Linked DNA regions of Homo sapiens: region 2 is linked to region 1. A link means that fine-mapping ties the variant in region 1 to the expression of a gene that starts in the linked region. Tissue or cell type: hippocampus. Region 1 holds a variant in brackets; the other region holds the start of a gene. All regions are shown on one strand. Distances are between the middles of the regions.

Evidence for each region. PIP is the estimated chance that this variant, and not a neighbour inherited with it, causes the effect.
Region 2: it holds the start of ADAMTS9, and the variant in region 1 is fine-mapped to the expression of ADAMTS9 in hippocampus (GTEx, PIP 0.99).

The regions. Positions count from the first base shown.
Region 1 is chr3:64,412,901-64,415,584 of GRCh38, reverse strand. No RefSeq gene overlaps it. Among named protein-coding and RNA genes, the nearest start is that of PRICKLE2-DT, 31 kb to the left of the region's middle. The variant C/T (reference allele first, on the strand shown) is at 1,047.
Region 2 is chr3:64,686,737-64,689,420 of GRCh38, reverse strand. It overlaps ADAMTS9 (ADAM metallopeptidase with thrombospondin type 1 motif 9), which reads left to right and starts at 1,421. Exons shown (of 40, transcript NM_182920.2): 1 at 1,421-1,878; 2 at 2,453-2,684. The coding sequence starts at 1,764. The region is part of intron 1 of ADAMTS9-AS2 (ADAMTS9 antisense RNA 2); the gene reads right to left.

The DNA.
Region 1 (2,684 bases):
CGTGTGTGTGTGTGTGTGTGTGTGTCTATTGTAAATGAGATTACATTCTTTTTTTTTTGTTTTTGAGACAGAGTTTTGTTCTTGTTGCCCAAGCTGGAGTGCAATGGCACAGTCTCGGCTCACTGCAACCTCCGCCTCCTGGGTTCAAGTGATTCTCCTGCCTCAGCCTCCCACGTAGCTGGGATTACAGGTGCCCACCACCATGCCTGGCTAATTTTTTTTTTTTTTTTTTTTTTTTGTATTTTTAGTATAGATGGGGTTTCACCATGCTGGCCAGGCTGGGAGTTCGGGATTGTATTCTTGATTGGGCTCTCAGCTTGAACGTTATTTGTGTAGAAATGCTACTGATTTTTGTACCTTGATTTTGTATCCTGAAACTTTACTGAAATCATTTATCAGTTCCAGGAGCCTTTTGATGGAGTCTTTAGGATTTTAGAATCATCATCAGTGAAGACAGATAGTTTGACTTCTTTTCCCATTTGGATGCCTTTTATTTCTTTCTCTTCCCTGATTGCTCCAGCCAGGACTTCTGCTACATCAAATTTTTTAAAAAATTGAATAAACATATTTTAATGTAATTGATTTTCCCTATAATCTGATATATCTTAATCACTCATTTTACTTTGAGAAGGTGTTCCAGGCTTTACCAGGTGCCCAAAGGCATCTAAGGTTCAGAAAAGATGAAGAACGCTGACAGGAGTTCAGGGGTGGGAGTGGGGAGTGGGAGGATGTGGCCTCAGGTATTTTTCTTGTTGCCTCTCCTTAGAAGTCTGTGAACACAGCTGATGGTTTTGGGATAGTTTTGGCTTTTCTTTTATATATGTTTTTTATTTTTGTTATTATTTGTTTTTCACGCTTGGCTTTCCATGATTTTTTTAAAAATTATTTTTATTTTTTTGAGACAGGGTCTCACTCTATCACCCAGGCTGGAGTGCAATGGTGCTATCTCAGCTCACTGCAGCCTTGACCTTCCGGGCTCAATCCATCCTCCTACCTCAGCCTTCCATACTACAATGCCCAGCTAATTTGTGTATTTTTAGTGGAGA[C/T]GGGGTTTCACCATGTTGTCTAAACTGGTCTTGAACTCCTGAGCTGAAGTGATCTGCCCACCTTGACCTCCCAAAGTGCTGGGATTACAGGCAGGTTTTGGCTTCTCTCAACCACACTACTGAGTAGTCTTTATTTTTAAATCAAACTTTGCTTTTTACAAAGAAAAGCATTTTTCTGGTCGGAGATTTGTCCTCCTTACTCATGTGTTCTGTGAAGCGTCTATTTCTTTGAATCTTTTCGTACAGTCAAAATGAGAATGTCCAGAGGTGAGTCAGAGCTTCTCAAAGGACATTCGTGTGTTTCCACCTTTTCCAATAACCAACCCATTCTTCCTGTTTACTAACAACCACATAATACACACACGCATGCCCTAAGGATTCCCTTCCTCTTCTCTTCACTGCATAGTGAACATTTTCTTGCCAATCCTCCTCCTAATCAGTGTTCAAAGAGGGGAGAAGGCAAAACCAGGACATCACCAGAACCCTCCGCGAACACCTTCCTCATCAAGAGAAAACTACTATGTGCCATTTGGAAAGGGGCCAGGCCTGGCATCTCCATCTTTTCCTCCCAGACTGTATTGCTTAGAACATTTCTTCCCAAGCCCAGTCACTCATGGCCCCCTCCTTGCCTCTGGCCATGTCTAAGGACCTTTCCTATTGCAGAGAGGAGCTTCTGTGTTGTGCTTCTGTTAGGAGCTCTGGCTCGGAGCTCAGACTGCATAGGTTTCTAGCCCAAATCTACTCCTGAGCCCCTGTGTGTTTTTGGGCAAGTTGTTTCACCTCTCCAGGCCTCAGTGTCACTTTCCTTATCTACAAAGCAGGGATTGGAATAGTACCTTCCTTAGGGGGTTGCTAGGAGGACTGAGTGAGTCAATACACGAACCGTGTTGAGAGCAGTGTGTGACACGTAATAAGCATTCAGCAAGCATTGGCTATCAAAATTAGTGATTGTTGACTTAGCATTTTCTTTAAAACTAGCCCTTAAAAATCAAGATGAGCTTAATTTAGAAAGGAAACTAGTGGATAGTAAGAGGGAAAAAAAGACAAGTTTAAGAGTAGGCAAGACCATGGTTTCAGGCAGAAAGGGTTGAACTCCAAGGGCAGGAAGTGGGAATTCCTGAGCCAGGTAGAAAAGCTGGGCCTGGGCATAGTGCCTGTGGTGAAAGAGGTGGTGGGAACAAGGAGGGCTGGCAGGACCCGGGGCATCTGACTGTACATGGACATCCGGGGTTTGAGGCTGGGGAAAGACAAGCTGGATGAAAGATTAGAGAGGGTAGGGGCAGAAGTTGAGAAACACAGGTTCTGTAACTGGGGTGAGGTGCCAAGATAAAGGGTCATGGGAAGAGAGAGACGTAAGTTGGAGCCTAAGGACAAGCTCTAAGAAAGGACCTGAAGGAATGGGAGGCTGGAAGAGGCAGGGGCTGAGATTGGGGGCAGGTGGTACCTTAAGGCATAGTATTAATATATGATTAGGGTATGAGACCCAATGACATATAGTGAAGACTCTTCCAAGGGATGTGCAAGCATGGACATCCTTTTAACAAATTTTGTATTGAAATACAACATGCATAGGTAAAAGTACACAAATCATAAGTATACAAAAAGAAAATTTTTCCCCAGGTCGAACACTCAGGGCCT
Region 2 (2,684 bases), 270 kb before region 1:
TATCTCAAGAATAGTTGACATTGCTAGCATATTGCGATTTGGTTCCTGGTGTTGGCAATCTTTGGTATTTCTAGTCCTGAGTGCTAACCTACCACGCAACAGAACCTCAACCCCCGTTCTAGGATACTTGGGCAAATATATATTTATTAGTCATATATTTATATATTTTTAACGATATTGTCATGTCTTTCCTCTTGAAATTATCTTGAAATTCTATCTTCCTGAGGGCTGGTTAAAGAAAAGGCGCCACTGAACCACCCAAGATTGAACAATTCACACACACACACACACACACACACACACACACACACACGAAGGTGTAGCTTGAAGCGCCTGCTTTCAGTCTTTCCCAGTCTTTCCAAGCATCTCTCAGGCTGAAAGCAAGCGGAAGTGATTGAGAAATCCCTCCAGGGACTGGTGCCTCCCACAGGGATCTACAACTTTACACTCCATCCCCCCTTCCCCTCCCATCTCTAAACCCCCTGGTAGTGAGGGGCGCCAGAGTCCCCGCCCCTTCTTGCTGCCAAAATTTGTTCTTAACCTTTTTTGGGGCAGGGGACCTACAGAATGCTATGGACCCTCCATGAATGGTGACAGAGGTTGGTGGAAAGCACAGCTTAAATATTTTGCGAAATTTTCAAGAGACCACGTATTAGAAACACACTCCGACCTGCAGGATTAAGAACCCCATTTCTAAAACTCTTGACTTGGGGTGATTAAATCGAGAGCGGAGCTCAGGTGCCAAATCTCTTCCCGAATGAAAAAGTGTAGGAAGGGAAGGCGCTCCGGCGCTGGGCCACTTTCACTTGTAAGAAACCAAAAGATGGGGACTGGTGGCAAGAGATGGGGACGGAAGAGAAAGGAAAGGAAAAGGAGAAATGTGAGAAACAGACAGGGACACGGTGGGGCGGGGAGAAGACAGACATCACAGGGGAAAATGGGGAGAAGGGACAGAGTCCGAGAGGCACAGCAGCAGAGAGACAAGGGGGAGGAGGAAAAAGAGACTCGGAAGGGAGGAGAGAGAGGAGAGGAGAGGAAAAAGACGAGAGGGGAAGTGGCTGCACGCGCGCCAGGAAAGGGAGAGAACTTTCCCTGCTTTCCCTCCCCGGGGCAGGGAATCTCAGAAAACCCCACTTCAGCGAGGTGGCGGGGACCAGGAACAGCTGCCCCGGCGCTGGTGACGCCTCTGGCCTCCGCCTCTTGCAGCCGGCAGGGCCTCCGGCTGCGAGTCCCGCACGGGCCGGCCGAGGAGGGGACATGGTCTGGAAGGAGGCGGTCCCCGTTCGTCTCGCTTTCTCCTCCCCTCTCCTCCTCTTAGAGGCGTGCACCGGGGGCATTTGAGAGGCTGTGGACCCGCGGCCCCCCCGCCTCCGCCCCCCCAGCCCCCCATTCAAGAAGCCGCTCAGCTATCCCGGCCAGCACAGGGCGCCCGGCGCGCCTCGGAGCGCAAGTTCCTCGCCTTCTCCTGCCCGCTCGCTGGGCATTATGCGGCCAAGCAGCCGAGCCCCAGTCCTCCTCCTCCTCCTGCTCCTCCGGCTCCTCCTGCGGCCCGAGCGGCTCAGCTCTCGGCAGGCGGCGGCGTTGCTCAGCCGAGCGCAGACGGGACCCTCGCAGCGAGACCTCAGCGACTCCTAAAGTCAAAAGTTGGCGGCGGGCGCCGGGCTCCGCGCGCTCTCCACGGCCGCTGCCTCGCGTCGCCGCCGCAGCCAAGGAGGGCAGGAGGGAGGGGGGTGGGGGCAGCGGAGGGAGGGGTGGGAAGCACCATGCAGTTTGTATCCTGGGCCACACTGCTAACGCTCCTGGTGCGGGACCTGGCCGAGATGGGGAGCCCAGACGCCGCGGCGGCCGTGCGCAAGGACAGGCTGCACCCGAGGCAAGGTAACCAGGCTCCGGCCCCCGGGACCCCGCCGGCCCCGACGCCGCCTCCCGGTCCTCGCTCCTGGGCAGGGGCACCCCGCAGCGGAGGCTTCTCTCCTTTTCCTAGAAAGAATTATCTCCCGCTTTGCAGCCTCTCCCTTCTTTGGGTCATCCCCAACCAATTGCTAGGGAGGGACACTATGGAAACGAATTTAGGCAACCCCCCCCTACCTTGCTGTTGCCAGATATATCCCCATCCCCACTCCCACGCCGCAAACTAAAGTAACTTAGTAATTGGGGGCACCAGATAGCGTCATGTTTTATTTTATTCAGGTTATTTATCAATATCTGAAATCATATATATTTTGACTTGTTAATTGTCTGGCTCGGAATAGTGTATCCTCAGCACCTAGCACAGGTCCTGTTACTGGCACATAGTAGGTGCTCAGCAAATATTTGTCCACTGATTAAGGGTGAAGGGATTGACTCGAATGGGCTGGAAAATAAGGTCAGAACAAAGTCCCCACCTTCGTTTTAAATTAAAGCTTAAGGAAAAATGAATTATTGGTTCATATACCTCTGCTTCTCTCCGCAGTGAAATTATTAGAGACCCTGAGCGAATACGAAATCGTGTCTCCCATCCGAGTGAACGCTCTCGGAGAACCCTTTCCCACGAACGTCCACTTCAAAAGAACGCGACGGAGCATTAACTCTGCCACTGACCCCTGGCCTGCCTTCGCCTCCTCCTCTTCCTCCTCTACCTCCTCCCAGGCGCATTACCGCCTCTCTGCCTTCGGCCAGCAGTTTCTATTTAATCTCACCGCCAA